6 separate regions of the Homo sapiens genome follow, and regions 1, 3, 4, 5 and 6 are each reported to be linked to region 2. The links are microRNA targets in miRTarBase. Many come from high-throughput screens and were not tested one by one. Region 2 holds a microRNA gene; each other region holds the end of a gene's coding sequence.

Region 1 (5,369 bases), not on the chromosome of region 2:
CCAAATGCAGCCTGGGCTCGAGTCTGCGGCTGGGTGTGGTCACACATAGTGTGTGCCTGTGTCCCACGTTCAGGGCTACTCAGGGACTCTGTCTGTAGGACAGGGTGGAAGGGATGGCTCCAGCGTTTGGATTCTGGGTTTTCATGAGCTAGGTAAGGAGGCTTAGCAGTTGCTGCTGCTGTGGACTCCCCCGCCTGCCAAAGCCATTGCCAGCCCCTGGGACTTCCAGGCTCTCAGGAGGGACATGGGTGACAGTCACTGCCCCCCATGATGCAGCCTCTTCAGGGGCCCTCCTGGAGTTGCCTGTTCTTCCAGAGAAGCCCAATGTGCAGGGCTGGCTGAAGGGGGAAGAGAAACCCCAAAGCCCCACCCAGCCTTTTCCTGGCCTCCCCTCCACCCAGAGCCTTCCTGGGAGGTCTCCAGGAACCCAGTTTGAAAGCCAGTTGCACGCGAGACAATGGGCGTGATGACAGCATCAGACCCACAAAAGGGTTGTAAGAACTAAAGATAAGGGCATTACCCACTACTGATGCCATCGTTTTACGGCTGAGGAAACTGAGGCTTGGCGCAGATCAACCACTTGCCCACATGGCTCCTACTCTGCTAAGCTGCTGGGGATGTCCTGTGTCATCTGAGGGCCTTCCCTGCCCAGTCCTCCCAGGAAGCAGCCTTTGATTCAAATCCCATTCTGTTGAAGGCCGAGCGCAGTGGCTCACGCCTGTAATCCTAGCGCTTTGGGAGGCCAAGGCAGGAGGACCCCTTGAGATCAGGAGTTCGAGACCAGCCAGACCAACATGGGAAAATGCCATCTCTACTAAAAATACAAAAATTAGCTGGGTGTGATGGTGCATACCTGTAATCTCCACTACTCAAGAATCACTTGAACCCAGGAGGTGGAGGTTGCAATGAGCCGAGATTGCACCACTGCACTCCAGCCTGGGCGACAGAGCAAGACTCTCTCAAAAAACAATCCCATCCAGCCAGGTGCGGTGGCTCACGCCTCTAATCCCAGCACTTTGGGAGGCTGACGCAGGCGGATCACGAGGTCAAGAGATTGAGACCATCCTGGCCAACATGGTGAAACCCCGTCTCTATTAAAAATACAAAAATTAGCCAGGCATGGTGGCACGTGCCTGTAATCCCAGCTACTTGGGAGGCCGAGGCAGGAGAATCACTTGAACCAGGAAGTCAGAGGTTGCAGTGAGCCGAGATCGCACCACTCCAGGCACTCCAGCCTGGTGACAGAGCAAGACTGTCTCAAAAAAAAAAAAAAAAAAAAAATCCTGTTGGAAAGTGAGGCAAGGCACAGGGTAGAGCTGGCCCCAGAGCCTCACTCTCCACCTCTCTGGCCTACCTTGCCCTGCCCTTGGGACAGCTGGAACCTCAGCAGTCACAGGGCTGCCTTCTGTGTCTCCCTCCAGAGCTGCCCTCCTCGGAGCACCTGAGTGTGGCGGATGCCACCTGGCTGGCCCTGAACGTGGTGTCCGGCGGTGGCAGCTTCTCCAGCTCCCAGCCTATTGGCATGACCAAGATCGCCAAGTCAGTCATCGCCCCACTGGCTGACCAGAACATATCCGTGTTCATGCTGTCCACGTATCAGACAGACTTCATCCTGGTGAGCTGACCATCACAGACACGCCTTGCACACTTGGGCCCGCCTCTGACACACTCACTCCCATCTCCCACCCCTTGCAGCCTTGCCCTTCCACGCTATTCCAGGGTGGGGGCAGAGTCTCAGGGTGAGAGGTTGGTGCCCCAGGGCCACCAGGCACACACAGCCTCAACTTCTTGCCCCTAGGTGCTCAAGCGGGACCTGCCCTTTGTCACCCACACGTTGTCATCAGAGTTCACCATCCTGTGGTCAGTGGCTAGACTGTAGCAGCCGAGAACCTCGGCATCACCAGTGGCTTCGTGAAGCCCAAGCTGGGTGAGCTGGGGGCGGGGGTTTGTGCGGGGAAACCTCACGAAGTTACCAGGCCAAGCCGTAGACCAGCCTTGCTCTCAGCACGGGCTTCTGCCCACTGAGCATGAATGGAGTGCCAGGCAGAACGGGATGCAAAGGGCAAGGTGTGGTGGCTCATGCTTGTAAACCCAGCACTTTGGGAGGCCGAGGCAGGCAATTCACCTGAGGTCAGGAGTTTGAGACAAGCCTGACCAACATGGAGAAACCTGGTCTCTACTAAAAATACAAAATTAGCTGGGTGTGGTGGTGCATATTTGTAATTCCAGCTACTGAGGAGGCTGAGGCAGGAGAATCACTTGAACCCAGGAGGCGGAGGTTGCGGTGAGCCGAGATTGTGCCATTGCACTCCAGTCTGGGCAACAAGAACAAAACTCCATCTCAAAAAAAAAAAAATGTGATGGAAAGGTCCTGGGCAGGCCCTGCTGCCATGTCTAGCAAGGGTGGTGGACGTGCATGCATACAGCAATGGCCAGAGGCCACTCCTGCTGCAATCCCAGGTGTCAGGGTGGGTTTCCCTGGGCAGGGACTGTGGTGCTGAAGCCTGGAACACAGGTAGGAACGGGGCCAGGTGGTGCCAGTTGGGAAGGGCATCCCAGGCAGCCAGCACAGCATGTGCAAAGGCCCAGGGGCCTGAGAGTGAGATGGAGAATCAGGACGGTGGTAATTGGTGGTAGAGGCTGGAGAAGCAGCAGTGAATGAGTCTCTCAGGGCCTGCGGCTGAGCCCTCCCCAGCCCTCTTCCCAGGCCCTGCACTCACCAGAGCTGCTGCTTTCAGTCCCAGCCTCAGTGCCTGACATCTTTGTGCTCTTACAGTCCAGATGCCGGTCATCCACCCACTGTCCAGCCCGAGCAACAGGTTCTGTGTCACCAGCCTGGACCCCGACACGCTGCCTGCTGTTGCCACACTCCTCATGGATGTCATGTCCTACTTCAATGGGTAGGGCTGCCTTGGGCATGAGGGGTCGCCGGCTGGACCAGGGGGAGGCACGGCTCTGCCTAGGAGTCTTAGTCTGACGGGGGAGGCTTTGCCAGGAGCTCATCTGAGGGAAGAGACACAGACCTTCCCTGGAGCTAGTCTGAGCGGGGAGACATGGACCCACCCCGGAACTAATCTGAGTGGGAAGGCAAGGACCCGTTCCAGAGCTAGTCTGAGCGGGGAGACAAAGACCCGCCCCAGAACTAGTCTGAGGTGGGAGACATGGACCTGCCCTGGAGCTAGTCTGAGGTGGGAGACACAGACCCGCCCCGGAGCTAGTCTGATGGGGGAGACACGGACCCGCCCCAGAGCTAGTTTAAATGGGGAGACACAGACCTGCCCTGGAGCTAGTCTGAGGTGGGAGACATGGACCTGCCCCAGAGATAGTCTGAAGGGGGAGACACGGACCAGCCCCAAAGCTGGTCTGAGGTGGGAGACAGGGACCCACCCTGGAACTAGTTTGGGGTGGGAGACACGGACCCGCCCTGGAACTAGGCTGAGGGGGAGACACAGCTCTACCAAGCAGAAAGGTTGGCTCTGGATGGAACATTTTGTGGGGAGTCCCCCATGTCTGTGAAGGCCTCTGCCTTCCCCGAGAGGAGGCGGGGGAAGTGATTGAGGGAAGATTTCAGGTGAGTCCCCCTACTCTCCACACCCTGCCTAACGCCAGCTGTGGAAGGAGGGCATCAGGACCCCAGCCCAGGCCACAGCAGGGAGCCCAGCAGAGGGAAGCCAGGTCAAACCACAGGGACTTCTCTCAGGCCAAAGCCCCAGGAACCCTTGCTGTTGTCCTAGAACATGGTGGGATTGGAGCAGAGACCATCCCACTGGGATCCCCCAGCCCTATCTAGGCAGCCACAGGTGTCCCTCAGGAAGCTCCCCCAACACCCCTGCCACTCTGAGAAGCCAGGACAGATCTCTAAGATTGGGACACTGCCCTCTCCCTGGGCCAACCCCAGCCCTGCAATGAGGCCCCAACCCACTCTGGTTCTCACCTGGCTTCTGCCTCCCAGGGGTGGAGACTGCCTCCCCACTCTCTTCACCCCCAAAGAAGAAGCACAGCCGAGGCCGACATCAGAGAAACTGTGTTGCTGACTTAGTTGCAGCAGGAAATGACTGAAATGGGGTAACTGTCACTCACACACTCACACCTGTGCCCACACACGCACACACAGAGACCACATCCGCAGCAGGTGGGCCTGGCCAGACACCTATGGGACACTTATTGGAGGCCCAAGAATTAAAGTAAGGGGGTGACACCCAGGAGGCCTGGGAGGGGGAAAGCCCAGTGGCCTCATGGTCTCTCTCATCGAACTCCTAAGGGTCCTTCCATGGCCCTGGGCCCCCGAGGGTCAGGGAAAAGAGTGAGGCCGGGACCAGTGTGAGGAGGCCTCTCCCCTGCCTGAGCGTAGAGTCCATTCTCAACAGAGACAAAGCTGCCACGTGCAGGGATGGGTGTGGAGGCCCAGGCGGCAGGGCCCTGGGGCCGGTGTGCAGCGTGGGTGGGGAGTGACGCCCACCAGGACGGCCCCCCATGGGGGTGAGCTGTGTCCAAAGTAGCTGGGCGGCAGCTGGTGTTGATAGTGGCATAAGGGACGTGAAGAGCAGCCTGGGAGGCCTGGCTTGGTGCCTGCGCGGGGGAAGGAGGGTCAAGTGAGTCTGCACAGCTTGGGCCCAGCCCTGGCCCCCCTGCCCCTGCCCCTGTCACCTCATCCCCAAAGCAGGTCCCCTCCTCACCCATGCTCGTGCTCTCGGTGCCTGGGGGCTGGTGCGGGACGGCTGGAGCCTAGGGGCAGGGCTGGGAGAGAGCAAGGATGGTCAGAGCTCTGCAGGGCATGTGGCCATCCCAGTGTCAGGGGGACGTGGACAGGGACCAGGTCTCACCGGTGCTTATGTCGGCGCAGCAGATGAAGGAGGTAGACACAGCCAAAGAGGAGGACTCCTGAGACCCCCAAGATCCCGGCCAGGTCTGCCCGCAGAATGGGGGCAGGAGTCGGCGGGGCAGAGAGCCCTGGGCACGGAGACAAGAATCAGATGGGTGGCCAGTTCCCGAGCCCCTCCCTGCCCTCCTGGACCCCTCGCCCCGGCCCCACCTGGGTCTGAGCTGGGCGGGAGGCTCCCACAGGCCTCCCAGGAGCCCTCAGGGAAGGACGCAAACTTGCAGCAGAAGGTGGTGTTGGCGCAGGGGCTGCTGGCCCCAGAGCCTTCCAGGATGAGAGAGATGCTGCTCTGGGTTTCCCAGCGGGCCTGGCGAGCAGGGGCCCATTGCCGGATGCCACGTTCTGGGTGCAACACAGCCAGCGTGGTCCCCCCAGCACCGTTGGGGCCCCCCCAGCTCACAGTCACCAGGGAGATGGAGCCAGACCCCAGGAACCCACAACGGATGGTGAAGGACGAGAGCTCGGTGGCCTCCATCCGAACTTGAACCCA
Region 2 (5,369 bases):
TTTTTTTTTTTTGTTTTTTTGTGGGGGATGGAGTCTCGCTCTGTTGCCCAGGCTAGAGTGCAGTGGCACAATTTCGGCTCACTGCCAGCTCCGCCTCCAGGGTTCACGCCATTCTCCTGCCTCAGCCTCCTGAGTAGCTGGGACCACAGGCGCCCGCCACCACACCCGGCTAATTTTTTGTATTTTTAGTAGAGACGGGGTTTCACCACGTTAGCCAGGATGGTCTCGATCTCCTGACCTCATGATCCACCCACCTCGGCCTCCCAAAGTGCTGGGATTACAGGCATGAGCCACCGCGCCGGGCCGATCTTATTTTTTTGTGTCCACAGCATGGATTTCCCTGGTGATCCACCTGCCCCTGCCCTGGGAGCAGGTGCTCCCACCCCACCAGGCTCTCTCCCTCCTGGCTGAGGTGAGGTCTCTGGGCTCATGGAGCCAGGCCTTAGAGCCAACCTGGGCTGCTGGGTAGAGAGGATCTGCTTCAGCCAGCTCTTTCTGCAGTGATGACGAGGACGAGGAGGAGGAGGAGGAAGGAGAAGAGGAAGAAGAGGAAGCAGAAGAAGAGGAGGAGGAAGATGAGGAAGAGGAGGAAGAAGAGGAGGAGGAGGAGGAAGAAGAGCCTCAGCAGCGAGGGCAGGGAGAGAAGTCAGCCACGCCCTCACGGAAGATTCTGGACCCTAACACTGGGGTGAGTTTCTATCATCTGCCACAATCAGAGCCCTGGTCCTGAGAACGTGAAATCCCGAGGCACTTTCACAATGGGGTAGGGGGTGTCTCCTTAAGCACAGTAGCCACAAACATTTTTTTTTGATTGCATGATATTGAGTAAAAAAAGGAAAATGGTCCCAGTGTAATGATAGTTACCTATATTTCTTTTTTTTTTTTTTGAGATGGAGTCTCACTCTTGTCACCCAGGCTGGAGTGCAGTGGTGTGATCTCGGCTCACTGCAACCTCTGCCTCCCGGGTTCAAGTGATTCTTATGCCTCAGCCTCCCAAACAGCTGGGATTACAGATGCTTGCCACCACGCCTGGCTAATTTTTGTATCTTTAGTAGAGCCGGGGTTTCGCCATATTGGCCAGGCTGGTCTTGAACTTCTGACCTCAGGTGATCCACCCTCCTCGACCTCCCAAAGTGCTGGGATTACAGGCATTGAGCCACCGGGCCCAGCCATAGTTACCTATATTTCTATTTACCCCAATATAAATGTCTATTTACAGGTAGCAGTGCTGCTGCATTATGTATATTATAAGATATGCATAAGGGTTTCTGAAAGAATAAACAAATAAGCATAAATAGAAATTCTGATTTTTTTTTTCCCCACCCACCAGAGGATTGTCTTGGTGACCCTTAGGAACCACTCCCCCATTCCTGGGATGGTGGCTGGGCCATGACCTGGCTTGGGCACTTGGTGTCCCTTGTCTGGCCCGGGGCTGCATCAGGGCTGCCACACCTCCAGTTCATTCATTTGCATTCCCTGTCAGGTTCCTAAGTAAAGCTCCTGGAGAACTTGGCTCTGGACAAGGACTCCCCATGCTTACGCTGAATTGGGCTGCTTCTCTGGTTTATGGAATCAATTAAACAAATGGCTAGGTTCGCCTCAATTCAGTTTTTCCTCTGGGCACCTCTGGTGCTAGCAGGGCTTACCCAGGCTGGACTGTAGTTCTACGGGGACCCACTTTAGCCCCCATGTGCCTCCGTAGTCATTTCTGGGGCACTGCATGTCATGACGAGGATCCACTTGGCCGTAGCAGGTTTTTTGAGTCCCAGGGAGGTAGCTTCCCCCTCACCCCAAAGGCTCCTGGACCAAGAGCCATCCAGGGCCAGCATCTCTGGGTGATATTGATAGATGGGAAATGCAGCTGAGTGGGAGGAAGAATTCTAGACTTTGAGCCTAGATGGGCTGGAGTGAAGGGTGGATGTGCTGGGTGTGGGGATGGGCACAGCTGTGTCGGGGAGTCTGGGGTCCGGAATTCTCCAGAGCCTCTGTGCCCCTACTTCCCAGGAGCCAGCTCCCGTGCTGTCCTCCCCACCTCCTGCAGACGTCTCCACCTTCCTGGCTTTTCCCTCTCCAGAGAAGCTGCTGCGCCTAGGGCCCAAGAGCTCCGTGCTGATAGCCCAGCAGGTAATAACCACCCCTCGACCCCCACGCTGTACGTGCTGTGGCTTCTGGAGCTGTTAGAGAAAAGGGACGAACAGCTCAGAGACCTGGGGGTGCGACGCTGTCAGCTGGGGGCAGGGAGGCTTGGCCTGCCACTGTTACAACACGCGCAAATGTCCAGGGTATTTATAAGCCTCCAGGGGTTGCAAATGTTCCCTCCCCACTCAGCCTACAGAAAGTACAGCCCGCCAGTTCCCATGCTGACTGGGGTTAGGGAATTTCCTTAAGAGCCTTGCATGTGCCCACCCCCTCCTTGGCTTCTCTCTGCGTGTTCCGTCAGCCCAGCTGCTTCGAGAACAACTCTGTTGCCCAGGGCTCCTTTGGAAGTGACGTGCCTATTGCAGGATGGGTGCCCTCACTCCAGCCTCACTTGTTGGTTGGCTCATTCATTCATTCATAGATGATCTTCGGGGCATCCATTTTCTGCCAGGCACTGCATTTGGGCATGATTTTATTTAACCCTCTTGGCAACATGAAATGTAGACTCTGCTGCCCTTACTTTATTTTATTATTTATTTATTTATTTATTTTTTTGAGATGGAGTCTCACTCTGTCGCCCAGGCTGGAGTGCAGTGGCACGATCTCGGCTCACTGCAGACTCTGCCTCCTGGGTTCAAGCAATTCTCCTGCCTCAGCCTCCCGCGCCCAGCTAATTTTTGTATTTTTTAGTAGAGACGAGGTTTCACCACGTTGGCCAGGCTGGTCTCAAACTCCTGACCTCATGATCCACCCACCTCGGCCTCCCAAAGTGCTAGGGTTACAGGCATGAGCCACCGTGCCCGGCCAGCCCTTATTTTGTAGATAAGAAAGCGGAGGCTCGGAGGTTACAGAGAAATAAAATGGGCCCACTCTCAGAGTTGGCTTAACATTTCGGCCAATTGCTTTGTTAGGTTTTGCCTGTATTCTTTGTTTCTTTTAACATGATAAATCAGATGTTGTAAGCCTTTCTGTGGCCTATCACTTTGGTGTAGCACCATTCATCACTTTCTTGTGCCCATAAAACTCTTCTCAGGATTTTTATTGCAATGTGTGGATGTAGCACTTAAAAGCCAGGCACTGTTTCTGACGTTTTTTCCACTTTTCCCTGTTGTGAGGTTGAGGTAAACGTTTCTGCATGTGAGTATTGTCTACATGCTAGATTATTTCTTCAAGTTCAATTACAAGATGGGGACCACTGGATCCCTGAAATGATTTTTTTTTTTTTTTTTCTGAGACAATGTTTTGCTTTGTGACTCCGGCTGGAGTGCAGTGGTGCAATCATGGCTCAGTGCAACCTCGACCTCCTGGGCTCAAGCAGTCCTCCTGCCTCAGCCTCCCAAGTAGCTGAGACTATAGGCACACACCACCAACCTTGGCTAATTTTTTTCCTTTTTGTTGACATGGGGTCTTGCTATGTTGCCTAGGCTGGTCTCAGACTTTTCGCCTCAAGCCATCCTCCCACCTCAGCCTCCCAAAGTGCTGGGGTTACAGGCATGAGCCGCCACACCCGGCTGGGATGATTTTTCATCCTTGTTCATTCACTCATTCATTCCCTCTCTATGCTGCATATGTGCTTGCTGCAGGCCAAATCCAAGCCAGACTCTGAAGGGACAGCATGGGGTAAGGCAGGACCTGTTCTTGCCCGCCAGGGGCCTTTGTACTGCCCAGGCCTCTCCTAGCTAGCGTCAGAGCCCAGGTACCTCTCCACCACGTGCCACAGGCCAACCATTGTCTCTTTTGTCCTCAGACTGACACGTCTGACCCCGAGAAGGTGGTCTCTGCCTTCCTAAAGGTGTCATCTGTGTTCAAGGACGAAGCTACTGTGAGGATGGCAGTGCAGGATGCAGTAGGTAATGTGGGCTGGGTGAGACCTGGGTGCCCTCTGTCCCTTGATGCTCGTGGGCCCCAGGTATCCTTCGTGGTTGCCGTAACTCGTCAGCCCCAGCGCTCTCATGGGAACTGCTCTTTGGCCACCTGAGTTTTTCCTCCGTCAGGGTCCTGCCGTGGAGCCAGCTGGCTGCTCTTCTCCCTGTTTTTCACCACTGAGAAACTGAGGCCTTTCCCAAATCCACACAGCCATGTACAGTTAGAACCCATAGCCCGCTCTAGGAAGTCCAGATAGTCACATCTGCAAGCCCAATGGACGCAGGTCTATCGGGAGGAGGGATGGTGAGAGCCAAGCCCTTGTCCACACCTTGGAGCTTCTGTGCTCACGTCCACTCTACCTGGAGGTTCCTTGCACAGAGGACACCTTTCCCCATAACATTATGGGGGCTTCCTTGGAGCACCAGCCCATATCCCTCCAGCCCTATCACAACCCTCTCCCCACCCTGTCTGTTTCCTCCATTCCAGCACCTGTCACCTTCCACCCTGTTTCCATGTGCTTGACTGAGCCTCCACATCTAACGAAACCTGAGCCAGTTCCGGTTAGGCAGAGGGGAGGAAGGGCCCTGAGGCGAGGGGGACGGTTCCTGGAAAAGATAGAAAGGGGTGGAAGGACATGTGGTGCCTCTTCCCGGCGTGGCGTCGAAGCGGGGAGGGCGGCTCAGTGGGAAATGAGGCTCGGAAGGAGGTGGGGGCCAGACACAAGCCTGCTCCCTGAGGGCCCGCCTGTGGGCATTTTTGGGAACAAGTTGCCCTAGTTCTGTTTCCCAGGAAGCCTAGCACAGTCCCTGCACATCCCCTCACCCTGCCAAAATAACCTGAATCCTCCCCAGTGGTAGCCTGCCTCAGGAAATCTCCATTCCCACGGTGTGAGGTGGGCACAGTGGGTGTCATCCCCATGCCCATTTTATACCTGAGGCCAGGATGGGCAAGGGCCAGAGTGTCACAGCTGGCAGATGGACTGAGCCCATCCCCTGATGCCAACTGCCACTCCCTCTGGTTCCTGTGTCTCTGCCGTCCCTCTCGTGTTCGCCTCTTCGTCAGGGCGAGGAGGCAGGCGAGCCTGTGTCTGCGCGGTGTTGGGGGAACCCTGGGTGCCTTGGCCCAGCCCTCTGCCATAGCCAGCAGCCTGCCCCTGCTGCTTCTGCCCTACAGATGCCCTGATGCAGAAGGCTTTCAACTCCTCGTCCTTCAACTCCAACACCTTCCTCACCAGGCTGCTCGTGCACATGGGTCTGCTCAAGGTGAGGCCGGAAGGAACAGCAGGCCCGGGAGGGAGGTGGGTGGGGTCTGCACAGAAGCTGCCCCAGCCATGCCCGCCAACCTCCCTCACCTCGAGTCCTGAG
Region 3 (5,369 bases), not on the chromosome of region 2:
ATAGCTCAAACTGACTAAAACAGTTGCTAAAGATATATCCCTCCCAATCCCCTCACCCAAAGAACCAGGCCCAGTTACTTTTAGCAAGCCTTCAAGGAACAATTCCCATGTTATACAAACTCTCCATAGCAATAAGATAAACAAAATTTTTTCCAAATTCTTTTGCAAAGCTAGCAAAGCATTACCAAATTGAATCTACTTCTGTACTTAATAAAAATTCACTATGAACAAATAGATTTTACTTGAAAAGTACAAGGAAATTGCAAATATTTGCAAACTTGTCAAGAAAATGAATTACAAAAAGAAAAAACCATAACTCATAAAATTACAATGATGGAGTTTTTAAACTTGATATAATATAGCAACCAATCCTAATAAAAACTTTTTAAGTATAGGCCAGGCATGGTGGCTCACACCTGTATTCCCAGCACTTAGAGAAGCTGAGGCAGGATGATCGCTTGAGGCCAGGACCGCAAGACCAGCCTGAGCAAAATAGTGAAACCCCATGTTTACAAAAAATAAAAATAAAAACTTAGTCGGGCATGGTGGCACATGCCTGTATTCCTAACTATAGGGGAGGTTGAGGCAGGAGCATCTCTTGAGCCCAGGAGTTCAAGGCTGAGGTGACCTATGGTCACATCACTACACTCCAGCCTGAGCAACAGAGGGAGACCTTGTCAAAAAAAAAAACAGAAAACAAAACTGTAAGTATAATAATAATTGGGAAACTGTGCACTGTGTGCCCAGTATTGTTACAATAATGTATTCTTCACAACCCTATGAGGTAGCTCCATTTTATAGATGGAGGAATAAGATACAAGGAAGGTAAGTGATTTGCCCAGGATCACACACCTAACAAAGTGGTGGACTCAGGATTTGAACCTAGGGCACTGGGAACAAAATCTGTGCTCTTAACCACTAAACTACACTGCTTCTTCTAGAAATAAGATTAGAAGGAAACTTCCTAAATCTAACAGAACATCAGAATCCAACAATGAACACGATATGAAACTGCAGAATACTAAAAACATTCCCCCAAGCGTTAAGAGAAAGACATCTACTGTTCCATGTTTTCTGAAGTTCTTGCTAATGCACAACATAAGTGACATCAAAAGACAAATAAATCATTATTTATTCTAAACCTAGAAAAGCTAGGAAATGAATCTAACAAATTATTAAACCTAAAAATAATTTATCAACATAATTGGATCCAGATAAAATTTGTTTAAATCAATAATTAAAGTTTATACTAGCAGTGACCAATAGAAATTGAAGTATGGCTTTCAAATGCAGCCAGTTTTCCTCCATCCAAGAGCCTGAGGCTTTTTCAGGATTCACTTGTACTGAGCACCCACACCAGACTGGTGGCAGTGAGTTAATATAGTTAGGAAATGGTGCACATTCCCACACTCTGGAGGCTTAGTATGGTAGGGGATGAGCAGGCAAGAACCAGAAGGTAAAACTGCAGCTTCCAACAGGCAGGATGGTTCTTCTGCAGACATGACTGGCAATGTCCAACTCAGGGCGGGGAACCAGAAATGTCCAACTCATGTGCTCATATAGTGTGGGGCTCTTCCCTGAAATCTGGGGGCTCCCAAAATAAGACAGTTAAAGAGGAAAAAGTCCTATCTGCATATCTTTTAAAAGAAAATGGAAAAAAATACAAAAAAACAAGCTGAAAACATTTAAAATACATATTCACAAATGGTAAAATTCCAGCCGTGTCATGAGCTCCGGTTTGTTGTTTTGTTGTTGTTATTGAGACAGAGTCTCGCTCTGTTGCCCAGGCTGCAGTACAGTGGTGTGATCTTGGCTCACTGCAATCTCTGCCCTCCAGGTTCAAGTGATTCTCTTGCCTCAGACTCCTGAATAGCTGGGATTACAGGCGTGCACCACCACACCCAGCTAATTTTTGTATTTTTAGTAGAAACGGGGTTTTACAATGTTGGCCAGGCTGGTCTCAAACTCCTGGACTCAGGTGATCTGACCGCCTCAGCCTCCCAAAGTGCTGGGATTACAGGCATGAGCCACTGTGCCCAGACAAGTTTAGAAATTTCAAAAGGCCCTGAAAAACTTTAGGCCCCCAGTAATCCTTTCTAACTTTGTCTGAGACATCTCCCCAACAATCACATTTAATTCTAATTTTCTTGATCCTCAACTCTCTTTCCTTTCTCCTGCATTGTCTGAAACATACACCACAGTGCACAAAATCACCCCTCCAGGTTACATGACTGACATTGCCCCTCTAGCCTCCTCCTCCACCTTTGTCATACTGCGGATCCTGTCAGCCTGTTAAGAAATCTGGGGGATGGAGGCCAGGCGTGGTGGCTCATGCCTGTAATCCCAGCACTTTGGGAGGCCGAGGCAGGCAGATCACGAGGTCAGGAGATCGAGACCATCCTGGCTAACACGGTGAAACCCCATCTCTACTAAAAATACAAAAAAAATTAGCCGGGCCTGGTGGCGGGCGCCTGTACTCCCAGCTACTCGGGAGGCTGAGGCAGGAGAATGGCATGAACCTGGGAGGCAGAGCTTGCAGTGAGCTGAGATCGTACCACTGCACTCCAGCCTGGGCGACAGAGCAAGACTCCGTCTCAAAAAAAAAAAAAAAAAGTCTGGGGATGGAAAGAGAACAGGGTGAACATTAGAGTAAAAGGTCCACCGGCACTGGGCCATTATTGCAAGGGTGGAAGGAAAGGTGGTTCAAGCTCATGGACTGACATATGACTGCAGAAGGAAAGGTGGTCTGGAAGATAATTAAGGCACAGTTCTCATCTTGAAATTAAGACAGCAGTTGTAGTGAGAAAGGACTAGCTGATAAGGAAAACAGATTAGTTTGATACTACTATTTTACCAAAAACCTCATCACTCTGAATTCCAATCATCCAGGAATGCTGCTAGCTGAAATTTTCAATCATCTATATTACAGCCATGAAAGTCAAGTCTTCTTGCAGTAAATTTTGACTGTAAGGTTTTTTTTGTTTGTTGTTTTTGAGATGTAGTCTCACTCTGTCACCCAGGCTGGGGTGCAGTGGCACAATCTCAGCTCATTACAACCTCTGCCCAGGTGCAAGCAATTCTCCTGCCTCAGCCTCCCAAGTAGCTGGGATTACAGGTGCACACCACCATACTCGGCTAATTTTTGTATTTTAGTAGAGATGGGGTTTCACCATGTTGGCCAGGCTGGTCTCGAACTCCTGACATCAAGTGATCTGCCCACCTCGGCCTCCCAAAGTGCTGGGATTACAGGCGTGAGCCACTGAGCCTGGCCGACTATAACTTTTATTTAGGAAGCAGGATGCAGTCAAATAGTTCAGAAATGGAGTAAGTGTGCAGCTCAAAGCATGTTATCAGTAGGATATGACTGCCCAACCCAATACCTAGATAAACAGACACTCATTCACACACAAATCCATTAGCTCTTCAAGGCTGAAGTACCAGTAGTAAGACTTCCAGGGCTACAAGTAGAAGATATCAGTGAGCCTTTATATGTGATATATTACGATGCCACTTCCTTCTTTAGAAGCTTCTAGTCCAGTGTAATGGGAGGGAGACGGGAGCCTGTGCCCACGTTTATGATGGCTCAATTTGAATTTTAAAACTTAAGAACTAGCATATTCAAACTATTATGCATATAAAGAAATAGATACCATACCTGATCTCAGAAGCTTACAAGCTGGTATGAAAGTATACACATTTGAGGCTGGGTGCAGTGGCTCACACCTGTAATCCCAGCACTTTGGGAGGCTGAGGCGGGCGGATCACCTGAGATTGGGAGTTCAAGACCAGCCTGACCAACATAGAGAAACCCCATCTCTACTAAAAATACAAAAAAAAAAATTAGCCAGGCATGGTGGCACATGCCTGTAATCCCAGCTACTCGGGAGGCTGAGGCAGGAGAATCGCTTGAACCCGAGAAGCAGAGGTTGTGGTGAGCCAAGATTGCACCATTGCACTCTAGCCTGGGCAACAAGAGGGAGACTGAGACTCTGTCTCAAAAAAAAAAAAAAAAAAAAAGAAAGTATACACATACACAACTATATATGTGTATACTTTGTACATATGTGATACACATATCACCTTGTAAGTTAAGAACAATTTACAAAAACATTTAACAGTTACACATCGTAGCACCAGCTAATTTAAAGCATTAAGGCCAAATCAATAGAGGTATAAAAGAAACGAAAAACTATTTGAAGAAGAAAGTCTTTCAGAAATGGCATAAATCTTGAACATTGTGAAGGAAGTGATTAGCAAACAGGAAGAAAAAGTTTTCTAGCTAGAAAACACAAAAATGATGAGAGGATGTAGCTTACAGTACAAATTTTTAAAGTAGCTGTGGAAGGAGATAGCCAAGGAGCAGGGAAGAATAATCTTGCAGAATGACTTAAAAAGTGACTTCACGTAAATGGTTCAGTGGAGGAACTGCAATAGAATAAAGGTAATATAACTGCTGTTCTTGAGAAATGCAGAATCTGATTATGGAATGCATACTAACAAGATAGAGTTTTAAATAGTTTTTTAAGAGAAAGAAGGGAACCTACAAGTTAATGACAGATGTAATCCCCAATTTCCTACTAAGTAAGGATCAGACTAAGTTGCACCTACTCTCCCACCTTAGTGACCCAAGGAAAAGCAAGTAGGTATGGTCTCCACTGTGATTAGTGGTCTCCAAGGAGACCATGATGAACATCCTTCTTATAAAGACAGCTTAACTCAAAGGTCTTTGCTGTCTGTCTCAGAAAACCATGCCTTAAGAAGATGACCGAGCCAGACCTGAGGGCTTCTCTCCAGCATGAGTTCGCTGGTGGTGATTAAAAGTGGAACGCTGACTAAAGGCTTTCCCACACTCAATACATTCATAAGGTTTTTCTCTCCAGTGTGGACTCTCTGGTGCACAGTAAGCTGTGAGCTGTCACTAAAGGCTTTCCCACAACTATTGCATTTATAGGGTTTTTCCCCAGTATGGGTTCTCTGATGTACCATAAGACTAGAATTATAACTGAAGACCTTCCCACACTCATTACATTCATAGGGTTTCTCACCAGTGTGAATTCTCTGGTGTATAATGAGGTATGAGTTTTGATTGAAGGATTTTCCACACTCATTGCATTTATAGGGCTTTTCACTTGTGTGAAGCCTCTGGTGCCGAATAAGACATTTACTCAGACCGAATGCCTTACCACACTCACTACACTTAAATGGTTTTTCTCCAGTATGAATTCGCTCATGTTCAACAAGTTGAGAGATCTGATTGAAGGCTTTCCCACATTCACTACATTTGTATGGCTTTTCCCCAGTGTGGAGGCTCTGATGTCGAATAAGACATTTACTCCGACTGAAGGCTTTGCCACATTCATTACATTTAT
Region 4 (5,369 bases), not on the chromosome of region 2:
TCAACAGTTGCAGAACAGATATTTCATTTACTGCCTTCACAGATTAGAAATTCAAAAGTAATTTAAGACTACTATGTTGGCTTAAAATTATCAGGATAAACAAATACTTCTAACAGGATAGTAAAAACAAGTAAAATTTTATTTCTCATAAACTAATTCCTCAAAAGATGTCCTACATTTAGCAACTGTTTTCTAGGACATGTTTACTAGAACTACTTTAAGTATGCTGTGCTTTCTTTTCAAGTGAGGTATCTATATTGAGGAAAAAAATCTTATAAATTCCTTTTACATTAAACTAATTTAATACACTATTTTGTTTTCTGGGCTGAATTTTTAAATTTTTTTCTTACATTTGATCACTTTCTAATTCAAAAATTGTAGCACTACATAGGACATTTAATTCTATTACTAAATAGGCTCCAAATTACATTATACAGTTTAGAAACCATTTCAATGAATGGATTTACAAAAAAAAAAAAAAAACTGTCCTTTTAAATGAAATGCAATATAAAATACTAATACACTTTTCTTCCAAAAGTGGAAATGCTTAAGTACCCTATACTAGAAAAAAAAAATTAGGCTGTTTATTCAATTCCACAATGTATAATACAGCAGTTTTATGTCCCTTATTGCTGACAGCTTCGATAAAAACTATTAACAAGTAGTTCCAAGCACAGAAACAGATGTACAGTATGAGCACGATTTTTCTTTATATTAATTTTTAATGTCCTATCATGTGGATTAAATGCATAAAGGGCAAATAAAAATGAGGAATCTTCCCTAAGTAATCAAAACATATGCCTTATTGAGAAGAAAATTTTAGAAGCTGATTAAAATCCTTCAGCACTAGCTTTGCAATTAATTCTGGAGAAATACCTTGACACATCTTATAGTATTTGAGTTTCCTTATAACTTTACCTTCCTTCAAACAGAAGCTACCTATGTGCAAATAAACTGGTTGTTCTGTCAGGACTTCTAAAAGATATGGATAACCGGCAAATATATACTTTATTTCACCTACTTTAATAGCTGCTTTACAATTCGCTATGTACAAATGATTTTATATCTTAACTGGTAATATATTAAATATGTTATAAAATTAGTTCAAGAAGCATAAAACACCCTAACTCTCATGAACACAGAAATTCAAGCAAAAGAATATGCTTAAACAAAAACTAAAGCACACAGCAAACGTAAATTGTTGGTCAAATCTTTTCATAGTGTTATAAGTTACATTTGTGAAATTTAGGGTAGTTGAAGAGCTTCCTCAATAACAGCAAGAGGTTTTACATTTATTACCTTTATAGAGTAGGTACACTTTTCTCATAAAGTTTAGCCTACAGAAACTATCGCCACCCAAATTAAACATCACCCAAGCTAATATTCTTTCTTCCTTCTAAAGATGAGCTAGCAAAACTTTTTATAGGTTGTCCCTTTAATGCAGCTTTTTAGAATAAACATTTTTACATTTTTTCTTAAAAGAATTATTTTTTGAAGTCTGAGGAAAAATCCGCTTGCCTAGTGAATTTGGCACACAAAGAGTAACAACAAATCAAACTTTAAGCTAGCAACCAACACACAAAATAAGCATGCAAAGAATAGAATAAGTTTTATATGGATAAGGTATTTTAGCCAACTCCACTTATAAGGTATTACAAAATCTCTATATTGTTTTGAAGCTATGTGTTGCAGTTTAAAGTTACTTTTAACAATAATACGTATATTTACAATTGACTTAAAAAACTATTTTCAAGGAAGTTAGAAACCTATGGCACACCAACGCATCTTCTGGAAAATGAAGACGATACAATGTCATGTGGCAAGTTTTCAATATATGAAGGACTAGAAAAAATATTTCTTTACTCAATTCTGAATTACAAGTTCATAATAATTTAATGGTGTTTAAGCACTGCTTAAAATTTTCCAATAACATATTTCAAGGATTAAGCAATTTATTTTAGAAGTTTTGGGTTAAACAAATTATCATTTTCTAGGTAACATAAAGCAGAAAGGTTCCAAGTGAATTAGAAATATAAATGAAATTATAGGTGTTTGAGTTTGTCTTCCAAAAAGCTGAGCTGTGACACAAATAATTCAAAATTAAAATAAAACTATATCATAAATATCTGATTTTTCCTTCTCCAGATCTAAATAGATTGTATTGGGAGAATATGTCATTTTAAATATTTGTTTCTAAAAATTAGCCGGGAGTGGTGGTGGGTGCCTGTAGTCCCAGCTACTCGGGAGGCTGAGGCAGGAGAATGGCTTGAACCCAGGAGGCAGAGCTTGCAGTGAGCCGAGATTGCACCACTGAACTCCAGCCTGGGAGACAGCGAGACTCTGTCTCAAAAAAAAAAAAAAAAAAAAAAAAAAAAAAATTTGTTTCTACATGTCATTTTAATATTTGTTCCTCCTTGAGAAGATTCCAAGACTCAACGAATTAAATTAGTCTTAATATAGCAAAATTTAAATGGAAAATAGAAAACACACATTTAGGTTATACTCAATTTAGTAAATAAATTACATTTGGGGAAGTACAAAATTCTTTTTGGATATGTACTATTAAGCAAAATATGAAAATAACTGGTTAAATGACAACCTAGTGATTCTTTCTACACCATTAGATTATCTACCTTCTATGCTGGAAATAGAATATAACCTTAACCCTAGCTAATTTATTTTAAAATAAATATAGCTCTCTGAAGTAATTTCATACATAGTATCTTATAAGAGAACATGAAAAACATTTATTATCCCATAAAATCCATGGGGTAATAATGTCAATTAATGATAGTTTCAGGAAACTCCCTTTAAAAACAGATCTAAGAATTTTACCTAATATATTTTGAGCCAAGAATTAACAAATATGAAATTTGCCATTAGAGAATGACAGACTTTTCTGTGCAAAAAAAAAGTGCAGAAGATGTTGTCCCTCCTGAAACTATGGAATTCCTTTATCTTCTAAAACTTATCTAAAAATCTTTTAGTAGCAGGTAACTAAACTGTCCTATATGCACCTATCATGTACTATCAGTTGACTGTAAATTCCTGATTTTGATATTAAGTAGTAAATGAAAATGGTCCATTCGTGCAAATTTTGGTAAGACAACATTTAAACATACAGAAGTCCAAAATAACCTTCAAGGTGTTTAACATTTTACAACTTAAAGGAAAACAAGTCCATTATATAAATTTTAGTAAGACTCATAACTACATGTAAAAACTGTACAGGAGGATTATGGATTGTATAGAAACTGATACACAACAGTGGTATCAGTTTTTCTCAAGAACGTTAATATTTTCACACCACTATTAACAACACAAACAAAAGTTCAGAAATTATCACATTTTATTTTTGAAAAGTTGCTGCTTAAAAAAAAATCTAACTATAACCACATTTAAACTGAAAAACAAATTACAACTGCTGCTTCTGTTTAGCAGCAGCACATAACAACACATTCTTCTTCCCCACTGTGCTCATGGGGTATGCTATAACCTCAGTAAAATTCCTCCTAGGGTACACATTAAAAAGAAGAGAACTGGTGGAAATTCATTCCACAATCTGAACAAAGTAAAAGTAAATTTGGTGTATGTTAATGAGTACACCATATCAACTTAGAAAAATTGTGTTAATGAGAAAAGGGGAGATTCAACTCCTTGAGTAGCTCTATATACTTAAAATATAAAGCCACCATTGTATCTAAAATTGAGTCTGAAATATGGATAACAAAATTGACCACAGCTATTTTCCAACACATATTGCAGCTTTTAAAAAGTACACAATTGTTAAGTTTGCATTAGAAATATAAGCAGATTACCTACTAGTTGAAACCATATAGTATTGTTACTAAGCTGATTTTTTTAAAAAAGTACAAAGAAACATACATTTTCATTCATTTGGAAAATGTAAAAATTTAAGTACTAATATATAATCTCTTCACTTTCTCTGATCTACAAATGGATAGAATGCCTAGTTATCGTCATGCAGATAAATTCTTCAGAATTCAATTACCAAAGCAAGCAACAAACAAAAAAAACCTTGTCAGTAATACACAGATGAATCTCTTTAACAGTTTCTATTCTTTAGCAGTCTTTGATGATTTCAGAATTTGCAGCTTTAGCTCTTTTATCATCATCTCTAACTTCTGTCTTGCTTCCCGTTCCTGTCTGAGTTCATCTTGGAGTTCTTGCCTATCGGCCTCAGCATGGTCCAATCTCTGCCTCAGTTCTGCCAACTATGTGATTTAAAAGGCGCTATCAATTTTAATTGTTTTGTTTTTCCATTTAATCCTCATATCATAGAAAATATCTATTTTCAAATTACTTTTTACAAAACGAACTATTTCATGTATACTAAATCCATTAAGCATCTAATACTATTAATCTGACATCTGACAGGACACTAAATTTAAGAAAAAGCAAAGGAACAAGAGGAAGGAACACATCCAGCATGTTCATGTTCATTATGCCCTATACTTTACTATACCGCTCATCACAGCCTGCTCATGTTAGTTATTTGTTCATGTTCCTTAAATTGTGAGATTCTATTAACAAAAGAGAATTGCTTATTTTTGCTCCAGTGCTTTTGAACATAACAGGCAACAGTTCCTGTTTGTTAATTTGTAGATTTGAAAGCTCATATACTACATTAAAATAATATAACATATAATATTCAGAGGGCTAGAGATTAGCAATTTAGGTAACTAAACTGCAGTAACCCGATAAAAATTTAAACTAATAAAAGCAACAAACATCAAAATAATCATCTTGGACAATACAGCATAAAGCTATGTTTAACAGAATTATCTATTTTGAAATCTAGCTTAGTAAACTGAGCTTGACAAAAAGTAATTCCTTTATTAGAGAAGTAACGGTGGCCGGGTGCAGTGGCTCATGCTTGTAATCCCAGCATTTTGGGAGGCTGAGGTGGGCAGATCATGAGGTCAGGAGTTCAAGACCAGACTGACCAACATGGTGAAACCCCGTCTCTACTAAAAAATACAAAATTTAGCTGGGCATAGTGTCGCACGCCTGTAATCCCAGCTACAATCAGGAGGCTGAGGCAGGAAAATTGCTTGAACCCGGGAGGCAGAGGTTGTGGGGAGCTGAGATTGTGCCACTGCACTCCAGCCTGGGCGACAGAGCAGTCTCTGTCTCAAAAAAAAAAAAGAGAGAAGTAACAGTTTCCATTTCCATGCTGAAAGGGCACCATTATACAAACAGTAATTCTTACCTGTCCTGCATATTCAGCCTCTTTGTCTTTTTCTAAATTTGAGTCACAGGTACATTTTTGCTTCATTATCTGCTCCAATTTTTTCTCTAAGTCTTTCTGTTCAACATAAAATTCTTCCATTCTTTGAGCATGTTCA
Region 5 (5,369 bases), not on the chromosome of region 2:
TAGCTCTGCTCAGGTCATCTTATGAGATGCTTTCAGGCACTCATTCTGCCAGGCTACTTTCAGTTTGGGTGCAAAAGAAGAAATAAATATTTCAATTGAAATGTGCAGGGGGACCAGGTGCAGTAGCTCATGCCTGTAATCTGAGCACTTTGGGAGGCTGAGACAGGAGGATCACTTGAGCCCAGAAATTTGAGATTAGCCTGGGCAACATAGTATCTATAAAAAATAAAAAATAAATTAAATGCCCTGGTATTCTTTGGACAAGAGTTTAAAGTTCTGTTCATCTCTCTCATATTCCTCTTTCTCAGGGTGCTAGGAAAAAAATATTAAAAAGAACAAACAAAATGCAATCATTTTGTCCCATTTTGTCCCAAATTTGGTCCCATTGGTGATCCAGTCTAAACAGAGGTTTTCTCAGCCACTTTTGTCAACTATTATTTAGAAAGATACAGCAATAACCAGAAGAGTTTTTGGCTTGAAACTGCCACACAGAGTGTCCTGGAAACAAAACTAGGCATTATACAATTCCTGGGGATGTCATTCATATCTTTTCTATGTGGATGACAACCCCTTGGTACACAGTATGAATGGTGTCCGCTGGAGTTGTGAATGCTGCTGTCCTGCCTGGAAGCAGTGTAACTTGTCTGTTAATCTCAAAATACGTATAAGCTGGTAAGATAAGCAGATGGCACTGACAGTCCCAAGAATAGTCAAGAACTATTCTGTTCTTGCAGAAAGCTGCTTTTAAACATAGTCCAGAGAACTTGATTTAATCTTATCAATGGCTACCAAAAAGGTTCAGATAATCTAGTGAGGCTGCAATATTTCTGATTTCTAGGTATCTGTTTTAAAGACAAATCTAAGACCTTGAAATTTTAGGTTCCTACAGTGCAGTAGAGTGTGATTTGCATAAAGAATTCTGTAACATCATTAATCAGGGGAATTTAGGATTCCTCACTTTAATTGCTCTCATGCACACCTGTTCCTGCTGAAAGTAAATAGAGAGCAACTGCAGCTGCATGGTGGCTTTACTGATTTAAGTACTATCATTAAGAGCATCTTTCAAGCTGGGAGTCTTACAGCTTCAAGGGTGTTTCCAATATATAATTCCCATCAGAGTCAATGATCATTAGAACATATTTTTTAAAACAAAATCCAAAGTTTTTTTTTTAAGTTTTAAAATTATTAACAAAATCAGCCATTTAAGCAAGTATATGTTCAAGGACAGGAGAGGATATCCTGAAAATTTCATCATATTAACTACTATTATATGTGGGACCCAGCAAATTCGAATTAGTTTGGCTTCATTTGATGTAAAATAAGAAGGAATGAACTCATATTTTCTTCTTCCTGTTTTCTTTCTCATTTTTTTTCTTGAGATGGAGTCTTTCTCTGTCACCCAGGCTGGAATGTAGTGGCACAATCTTGGCTCACTGCAACCTCTGCCTCCCGGGTTTAAGGGATTCTCCTTCGTCAGCCTCCCGAGAAGCTGGGACTAACAGGCATGCGCCCCACGCCTGGCTAATTTTTGTATTTTTAGTAGGGACGGGGTTTCACCATGTTGGCCAGGCTGGTCTCAAACTCCTGACCCCAAGTGATCTGCCTACCTTGGCCTCCCAAAGTGCTGGGATTACAGGCATGAGCCACCTTGCCAGGCTGCTCTTGCCATTTTCTATTGGTCCTTAACCTTTACTGGGTCATGATACTTTTTTTTTTTTTTTTTTTTTTTTGAGACAGAGTCTCACTCTGTTGCCCAGGCTGGAGTACAGTGGCATGATCTCGGCTCACTGCAACCTCTGCCTCCCAGGTTCAAGTGATTCTCCTGCCTCAGCCTCCTAAGTAGCTGGGACTACAGGTGCTTCTACCACACCCGGCTAATTTTGTGTATTTTTAGTAGAGGTGGGGCTTCACCGTTTTAGCCAGGATGGTCTCGATCTCCTGACCTCATGATCCACCTGCCTTGGCCTCCCAAAGTGCTGGGATTACAGGCGTGAGTCACTGCGCCTGGTCGGGTCATGATACTTTTTAGAATATGATGTGAGATATGGTACCTTTTCCAAGAAATGTACTCAGATACATGTACACAAACTTTATCATAACATTTCAGGGGTTATTGACTCATAAAACCTATTCATAGACCCTCTAGTTTCAAAATCTCAATCTAGGCCAAGCGTGGTGGCTCACGCCTGTAATCCCAGCACTTTGGGAGGCCGAGGCAGGTGGATCATGACGTCAGGAGATTGAGATCATCCTGGCTAACATGGTGAAACCCTGTCTCTACTGAAACATACAAAAAATTAGGCAGGCGTGGTGGCGGGCACCTGTAGTCCCAGCTACTCAGGAGGCTGAGGCAGGAGAATGGTGTGAACCTGGGAGGCAGAGCTTTCAGCGTGCTGAGATAGCGCCACTGCACTCCAGCCTGGGCGACAGAGCAAGACTCCAGTCAGAAAAAAACAAAAACAAAAACAAAAAAACAAAAAAAACCCCCTTAATCTAGAGGCCACTGTAGGGTGAAAATAAGTTGTAAGAACTCAAAATTAATTCCAGGTTTGAAGAAAAAGTTAGTGGGTTTTTTTTAACACTGATTTGAAAGCAAGTCACTTTGGAGACAAAATTACTACTTTCAGGAATCATTTTTATTGATGTCTTTAATTTCACAAACCAAATTATATAAAATTAAGTAGTACACATTTCAAACATAATAATTGTGCTCTGTACAATTCAAGGCACACTTGGATTTTTTGTTGGTTTTTTGTTTGCTTTTTAACAACGGAAAACTTATACTCCATTCAAGATTTTTCCATCAGAACTTTAATCATTTTATTTGGGTTCACAGGTGAAAATATTGTGAAAGTTCATTTACACCACAATGAAGGATAACATCTTCAGCCCCATTTATTTACTAACAACTTTATTGAGATATAATTCACATACCATATAATTCACCCACTTAAAATATACAACTCAATGGTTTTTAATATATTGTTATGTGACCATTACCACAATAAGTTTAGACCATTTTCATGAACCATAAAGAAATCCTGTACCCATTAGATGAATCCTGTACTCCCCATTCATCACCCCCAATTCTAGCCTTAGGCAACCACTAATGTACGGAAAGTATTTTTTGTAGAGACAGGGTTTTGCTATGTTGCCCAGGCTGGTCTCAAATTTCTGGCCTCAAACAATCCTCCTGCCTCAGCCTCCCAAAGTGCTGGGATTACAGGTGTGAGCCACTGTGCCTGGCCCTTTATTTCTTTTTATGGCTGAATAATATAGTCCATTGTATGGATATACCAGATTTGGTTTATCTATTCATTAGTTCATAGACATTTGGGTTGTATTCAGCTTTTGGCCATTATGAATAATTCTGCTATAAATATTTGTGTACAAGTTTTTGTATTGACCAGCCCCTTAATTTTTAACTACACAAGGCAAAAAGTAAAAAGAGAAGAACTCTTACAACAAAATCATACAAAATATGTTTTGCAACAATTTTAGATTTTTCAAGATTCAACCATTTCCATATGTAACATCACAGAGGCTTGTCATGACAGGAAAACTGGTGTCATTACTCTATCACAGAATTGGGAAATCCTAGAAGGTTAGATGTTCTCTAAGACCCTTCTTACACTAAGTTAACGACTTACTACTTTCTATTATTTCTCCATAAACAGAAGAGGAAAGACCAGAAGAGGAAAGGCTTGCCACACTAACCTAAGTTCCCTGTGCTGGTTTGAAGTACTCAGTTCCCTTACCAATTTCCAACTGTCTTTTTCCTACAACTTTAATGTTTGTTGAGTGTATGTATGATTCATAAGATTTCTGATCAATACTATGTGTGTGACATTGAAAGGAGTCAAAATGAATGTATGACTTAGCTGCATTTATCATTTATTAATTGATGACACATTTATCCAATGATAAAAGCATTTGAGAATCTCAACTTATGCCTGAGCCTCTTTCATTAGCTATTATGGTATTATATTCACACAAGTTCATGCATTGAATTTATCTGATAAGGACAGATTCAGAGGCATAGGAAGCACATTCCTAAAGATTTGACCATTAGAGTCGTTACACAGAAGATTCTAATGATTATTTATTTTGCTTTGTATTTCAGAACAATCTTACTTTGGATTTTTGATTTAATTTCACTGAAATTCAGTCAGCATTACCTGATGCTAGCATGTGAGGCATAATCTGGAAGACTGAATCACAATTTACTGCTAGGGGAGCCTGCCAAGCTTTGCCATTCTTTCAGGGGAGGGTTTCCCTGAGAAGCCAGTTTTTTTAGATAGTCACTTGGCTCCAGTTGGGGAATATCAGGGTTCTGCCTGTAATATTTCTGCAATTTCTCTAGAACTGTGGGCAACCCAACTGTGGAAGCATAGAACATGGGCCCGCCCTTGTGCCTTGGCCATCCATATCCATGTAAATAGACAACATCAATGTGCTCTGGGCTAGCAGCTATCCCTTCTCCCAAGATACGGAATGCTTCATTGATAAGTGAATATAAGCAGCGTTCAAGGATCTCATCCTGGCTAATGGTACGTGGTTCAATGTGATGGGTTTTTCTATACCGTGATAGGAATTTGGAAAGCCAGGGATCAGGTTTGTGAATCCTACCCAATGGCTTGTCATATTGATACCAACCCTTACCTGTCTTCTGGCCAAATCGTCCTAATTCACAGAGCACATCAGGAATTGGGCAGTACCTCCTATTACCCCTTTTTCGGGCAGGAGTTCCTGGAAGCAATGTAGGTCCAGTAAGACCTTGCCCCTTTCTAGATTTCCAGCCCACATCCAACCCAGCAAGATCAGACACTCTAAAAGGTCCCATTTTAAAACCAAACTCTTCCAGCACCTGATCTACCTCCTCTGGTTTGCTGCCTTCTTCTAACAAGAAATATGCCTGATTGTAGTAAGGATTCAACATTCGATTCCCCACAAATCCAAAACAGTTGCCTACAACGACTCCAATCTTTTTAATCTTTTTTGATAAGTTCATAACAGTGGCAATGGTAGTGGGGGAAGAGTATTGGCTGGGAATAACCTCTAACAACTTCATGACATGAGCTGGCGAAAAGAAGTGGGTGCCAATGACCAAGTGAGGACGATCAGTGGAAGAAGCAATCTCATCAACATCCAGGGCTGAAGTATTAGTGCACAAAAATGCTTCTGGTTTGCACACAGCTGAGAGTTCAGCAAAGACCTGCTTCTTCAGGCTCATTTCCTCAAATACTGCTTCAATGACTAAATCTACACCACCAAGCTCCTTCACAGATGAAGTTAACCTGGGTTTTGGTCCTGACCAAGGGTGGCCGCTCTGTTGCATTTTGGAGGCTTCTTTTTCCAAGACAGAGGTT
Region 6 (5,369 bases), not on the chromosome of region 2:
CAGATCTCCACACATCTGTTGGACTTTTGTCCATATGTAGAATTTAAAAAACTTTTTGATATATGTTATACTGCAGTTTTTGAAGCAGAAACAAGCTATATAATTGTGTGCAAAATCAAAATAAGCTTTAGGAGATAGAGGTAAGGATAAGAGGTAATGGTAATGTGAGACTTACAATGATAAATGGCTAATCCTTTTCTAGTGTGAGTTTCAGGTACTCCTGAAAGGCTGTAGAAAAAGCCTAGACCAAGTTTGTCCAACCTGCAGTCCATGGGCCACATGTGGCTCAGGATGGCTTTGAATGTGGCCCAACACAACTTTGTAAACTTTCTTAAAACATAATGAGTTTTTTGCGATTAAAAAAATTTTTTTTAGCTCATCAGCCGTCATTAGTGCTAGTGTATTTTATGTGTGGCCCAAGACAATTCTTATTCTTCCAGTGTGGCCCAGGGAAGCCAAAATATTCGACACCCTTGGCCTAGACAGTCACCGAGTCTGAGGCTTATACCCAGAGCTCTTTGAATGGTGACAATGGTGATAGTTGATGATGGACTTCCTCCACCATCACTTTCTGTGTTGAGACTAGAGAAGTTAAATAATTGCTTTCAACTGATGGTGAAAATTTTAAACCGAAGGGTGAATCTGTGCTGAAAGAATTCACCAGTGATCTGGGAGAAAGGCAACAAAGAAATAAGGAAATGGGAAGGACAGTGGTATGAAAATGCATTGGATTCACATTTTCTGTCCATAGATTCTTAAACAATAAAGAGGTAATAAGAATGCACAAAAATAGAGAAAATATGACATTTTCTAACTGGTATGACTTCATTATTTACTCAAAAATTATGCTTAGAAACAGTTATATATTGTCTAAGCTTATACATTGTAGAAATGTAACAGTAGATTTTTGTTTAAGAAAACTGAAAGTATTAAAATGTTATGTGACCATAGTACATATTGCTATACTTGTTTTATATGAATTATTTTTGTACCAGATAAAATTATTTTTCATACTTGTTTGCTTTTAGGTGGACCATTTGATTTGATGTCACGAAGAGTAATTGCTGCAAATAATAGAATATTAGCAGAAAGGATAGCTAAAGAAATTCAGGTTATACCTTTGCAACGAGACGACGAAGATTAATTAAGGCAGCCTCATAGTCAATCCCAGTTGCTTTTCCCCAGATTTGGTGACTCATCAATGGATATGTGTTTTGGATGTATGATATGCTTGGTTTAAATTCTCTTTGTCCAGGTCAAAAATTTGGAACTTGTTTCTTATTTTACTATGTCTAGGTTTGCAAGAATTGACATAATGTTTGTTTCACTGATTTAAAAAATTTTGCATGTAAGAATGTACTTTAGGAAACATACCCAGGAAGTACAGTTGATAAATATAACATCAACTGAAATAGTCAATTAGCAATTTTGTGTTTCTAAATATCTATGGTCCCCTGAAATTTTGACTTAGTATATAGGTGCAGAGACACCCACTTAGAAAGTTAACTGTTTGGAAAAACATTTCTCTTTAGTTTCAAAAACCATATATAATTAAATTTGTAAGGATATACTGAGTACCCTAGGCCAACTTTTTTTTCTTTGCAGAGAACCTTTTTTGTTTTATTCTTCAGTGTTCATATAGCACCTGGCCCATTACATATCTAGGCAACTAAAAACAAACATTGTAAGAATGAATATTTTTAATGTAGTAATTCCTAGTTACAATAGATACATAAAGTAATGAACTCAGCATTCTGTACTTTTGCTTCAGGTTTGAAGTAAAAATTATCTAGTTAAATTTTTTTTATTTCACGTTACCATGCCATTTCACATTACCATACCATCAGATAGCATGGCTTATTGTGGGCATTTCTGCAGTGAATACATTTTCCAAAACAGTTAAATTGTCTGTTTGGATTTGCTTTAAAGTCTTGTGTAAGAGAGAAGAAACTATTTCTATAATAAAAAGCACTCTCATCAGATATCTGACATAATTAGATACAATATAACATTTTACTAAGTTCAGTATTCATGTTTTAAAGGTGTTTATACTGATTTGATTGTGCTGGCAAATATACTGTATTGTTAATATTGAACTGTTTATTTTTCTCTTAGTCTTCTTATTTAATTAACTTCATTGCCGCTGGATTCTGTTCAGCCTTTAAAAATATTTCTTAGTGGTCATTGCTCTGCAGAACTCAAAAAGAAAATTGTACTTGTTCATAGACATTTTTAAAGGGTTAATTTATTGTTCAGCCTTATCCCTTGGCACGTAAACAGACTACTAGACTTATTGTAGGTTCGTTTGAGCTTTGTGTTGTAAAATTAAAAATGCTTCTGTAAAGTTTTCAAGGTAGGGAGTGATTTTATTATTGTGTATATCTAATATATTAAGTATGTGTGATACTAAGGTTTGACTGCTATAATTATTTGTACTGTTGATCACATGTACTTAAAACATCTGATACTGTATTCTAAGACAGGTTGTTTTTGCAATTAAATTTATTTTAATAAGACGATCATGAATAAAACTTTAAATTGATATTTTTATTATTATTACCATTATCATTATTATTATTTTTAGATTCAGGGTCTCGCTCTGTTGCCCAGGGTCTGTCTCTGACTGTGCTGTGGTGCAGTCATAGCTCACTGTATCCTTAAATTCCTGGGCTCAAGTGATCCTCCTCTTTCAGTCTCCTGAGTAGCTGGGACTATAAGTTCATGCCACCATGCCCTACTAATGTTTTAATTTTATTTTTGTAAAGATGGGATCTTCCTATGTTTTCCAGGCCCCTTGGCCTCCCAAAGTGCTGGGATTACAGATGTGAGCCACCGAGCCAGGCCATGATATTTACATTATTAAAGTTAATAGTTCAAACTACTTTTAGAGGCTTTGTTTTGTTTTTGTTTTTTGAAGACAGTGTCTTGCTCTTCTGCTCAAACAGTAATGCAGTGGCATGATCACCATTCATTGCAGTCTCAACCTTCTGGGCTCAAGCAGTCCTCCCACCTCAGCCTCCCTAGTAACTGGAACCACAGGCACATGCCACCATGCCTGGCTAATTTTTTAGTTTTTGTAGAGACAGAATCTTCCTATGTTGCTTAGGCTGGTCTCATTGGGCTCAAGTGATCCTCCTGCCTCAGCCTTCTAAAGTGCTGGGATTACAGATGTGAGCCATTGCACCCAACATACTTTTAGAGGTTTTTGTGTTGAGTTACAAATATTTGAAACTTGCAAATGTAATTTAATATATGTTCTTATTTTTTGCCTGTAATCTTTCCAACTTTTCTAAAAACCTATATTTTTTTCTACAATAGCTTTTCCATCTGTTTATTCTAAATGCAGTTGCATATTTTGTGTCTGAAATTTCTTTAGATGCTGAAAAAGGATGATCGACAAGTGAATTATCTAATAATATTTGAAAATATTTCTTTGAGTAACAGGACTTCTTAGACTTAACATGTATATTTTGTATCAGGGTATATTATCTTTCTGCATGTGGATACATACACAGATACATACATAAATATACATAAATATATGTACTTGAACACATAAAATATATGTACTTGCCTTTTAACGAAATTGTGTTCATTCTATCCTATACTTACTTGTGAAGCATTATTTGGCTTTGTTATGAATTACCAGCCATTCTTAGAATTGGTTTACAATGCTAAGTCAGAAGTTTTCCTGGGATATGTATTATTCTGACTAATTTGTCCTTAATTTTAAGATCTAGTGTAGAGCCTAAAATACCATGTTTGAAGAAAACAAAAATAATTATTTTAAACTGTTTCCTTTTACCTCAGTTCCCTATGTTTACCCTGCCTCATTTAGAAAAAATACGTACTTTTTATTACTGTCTATTTAGTCACACACATAGTTTAAAATTTCAAATACTGCTACACAGTTCAGAATGAAAACCAGCATTTTCCTGTTCCATTCTATCCCACCCTAGTTTATCTCCTCAAACTCTTTTAGCAGTTGTTGCTGGTATTTACCTCCATCTTTGAAAAGGATAGATATGTTCTACTAAATCTTTATTTATTGGCTTCACTCCATCTCAGTTAACTTGGTATTATGGAAGCAGACCCCATGAGTTGCTTTTCTGTCCTCTTTTCCATCCTTCTACAATAGTGATATATAAAATTTTTTGCTAAAATTATGTCCATTGTTTAACTTACGACTTTTATTAATTGGTTAGCTAGCAAGTAGTGTGTTATGATTACAGTTTCTTTCCTGTGCAACTTTTTATACTTTCTGAAATTAACAGATTTCTCCCAGGATTTTCCATTGGTTCACCATACTTAAGTATTCTGTTGTGTGAGAACTATTTTCTTTTCTCTCTGGAGATAGCCCTTTTGGGGCCCTTTTCCTTTTCTTCTGTTTGAACTGGTTTCTGGCTGGGTATGCTGCACTGTCCTTCAGGGCTTGCCTCTGCTTCTATGCTGAATTTTCCATATCCTGGGTCTTTCTTAGCTCATTTTGATGAGCCCATCTTCCAAGTGCTTCCTGTGAAAGGTACTTGGGAGGTAAAATTTTGTGATCTCTGGTATCAGCAGATGTCTATTCCTGCTTGCTGCATTCATAGTTTGCCTAGGTCTAGAACTCTAGGTTGCAGCAGTGTTTCCCTCGGAATTTTTAAAGCATTGCTTCACTCTCAGAGCTTTCAGCATTGCTGATGAGACACTGTTGTGACGGTCACTCCATCAGTGTGTACTCTTTTCTGTTGAAGATTTTAGGATTTTCTCTTATCTAGAGTTTTCTGATTTCCCTGTGATGATCATTGACTTACGTCTTTTTCATTCTTTGTGTTAATTTTTCGTGTCTTTTTGTGCTGGAAATTCCTCCAGTCTTAAGGGTTTTGTTTCTGTGGTAACTTCCCCCCTTCCTTAGTCTCTTTCTTCTCTTTCTAGAATTTCTGTTATTCAGTTGTTGAATCCTCTATATTTATCAACTTATTTCCTCTGTTTAACATCTTTTTGCAGCTGGGCACAGTGGCTCACGCCTGTAATCCCAGCACTTTGGGAGGCCGAGGCAGGTGGATCACCTGAGGTCAGGAGTTCAAGACCAGCCTGGCTAACATGGCGAAACCTCGTCTCTACTAAAAATACAAAAATTAGCTGGGCGTGGTGGCGGGCGCCTGTAATCCCAGCTACTCGGGAGGCTGAGGCAGGAGAATCGCTTGAACTTGGGAGGTGGAGGTTGTAGTGAGCCGAGATCGAGCCACTGTACTCCAGCCTCGTCAATAAGAGTGAAACTCCATCTCAAAAAAAAACAAAAAAACAAAAAAAAAATCTCTTTGCTTTAGTTTCTAGGAGATTTCCATATCTTTATCTTCCAACCTATTAACTTTTAAAAAATCACT

The links. The annotated mature microRNA hsa-miR-6889-3p reads UCUGUGCCCCUACUUCCCAG and lies in region 2 at 1,985-2,004, shown strand. An mRNA with a match to its seed (bases 2 to 7 or 8) in the 3' UTR can be bound and repressed. Matches are read on the target gene's strand: a 7mer-m8 pairs with bases 2 to 8, a 7mer-A1 pairs with bases 2 to 7 and ends in A, and an 8mer does both.
Region 1: miRTarBase lists PVRIG as a target of hsa-miR-6889-3p. Seed matches in the 3' UTR shown: 7mer-m8 at 4,091-4,097.
Region 3: miRTarBase lists ZNF852 as a target of hsa-miR-6889-3p. Seed matches in the 3' UTR shown: 7mer-m8 at 3,562-3,568, 7mer-m8 at 2,031-2,037 and 7mer-A1 at 903-909.
Region 4: miRTarBase lists SKIL as a target of hsa-miR-6889-3p. Seed matches in the 3' UTR shown: 7mer-A1 at 2,899-2,905.
Region 5: the mRNA of EHHADH is a reported target of hsa-miR-6889-3p. Seed matches in the 3' UTR shown: 7mer-m8 at 3,237-3,243.
Region 6: the mRNA of IMPA1 is a reported target of hsa-miR-6889-3p. The part of its 3' UTR that is shown has no 7-base or 8-base seed match.

Annotation. Positions count from the first base shown.
Region 1 is chr7:100,220,128-100,225,496 of GRCh38, reverse strand. It overlaps PVRIG (PVR related immunoglobulin domain containing), which reads right to left. Exons shown (of 5, transcript NM_001397246.1): 2 at 5,033-5,369; 3 at 4,824-4,950; 4 at 4,677-4,737; 5 at 4,007-4,569. The coding sequence ends at 4,246. It also overlaps the pseudogene CASTOR3P. Among named protein-coding and RNA genes, the nearest start is that of PVRIG, 2.9 kb to the right of the region's middle. RefSeq lists enhancers at 3,789-3,888, 3,909-4,008 and a silencer at 4,429-4,478.
Region 2 is chr22:41,249,627-41,254,995 of GRCh38, reverse strand. MIR6889 (microRNA 6889) reads left to right here and starts at 1,946; the gene lies at 1,946-2,004. RANGAP1 (Ran GTPase activating protein 1) reads left to right here. Exons shown (of 16, transcript NM_002883.4): 11 at 502-688; 12 at 2,005-2,124; 13 at 3,887-3,989; 14 at 5,179-5,267.
Region 3 is chr3:44,494,429-44,499,797 of GRCh38, forward strand. ZNF852 (zinc finger protein 852) reads right to left here. Exons shown (of 4, transcript NM_001423469.1): 4 at 1-5,369. The coding sequence ends at 4,717. Among named protein-coding and RNA genes, the nearest start is that of ZNF852, 14 kb to the right of the region's middle.
Region 4 is chr3:170,391,125-170,396,493 of GRCh38, reverse strand. SKIL (SKI like proto-oncogene) reads right to left here. Exons shown (of 7, transcript NM_005414.5): 6 at 5,234-5,369; 7 at 1-4,235. The coding sequence ends at 4,077. Among named protein-coding and RNA genes, the nearest start is that of CLDN11, 25 kb to the left of the region's middle.
Region 5 is chr3:185,188,010-185,193,378 of GRCh38, forward strand. It overlaps EHHADH (enoyl-CoA hydratase and 3-hydroxyacyl CoA dehydrogenase), which reads right to left. Exons shown (of 7, transcript NM_001966.4): 7 at 2,615-5,369. The coding sequence ends at 4,217. It overlaps EHHADH-AS1 (EHHADH antisense RNA 1), which reads left to right. Exons shown (of 7, transcript NR_038990.1): 7 at 3,678-3,946. Among named protein-coding and RNA genes, the nearest start is that of EHHADH-AS1, 28 kb to the left of the region's middle.
Region 6 is chr8:81,655,126-81,660,494 of GRCh38, reverse strand. It overlaps IMPA1 (inositol monophosphatase 1), which reads left to right. Exons shown (of 9, transcript NM_005536.4): 9 at 1,029-3,581. The coding sequence ends at 1,144. Among named protein-coding and RNA genes, the nearest start is that of IMPA1, 29 kb to the left of the region's middle.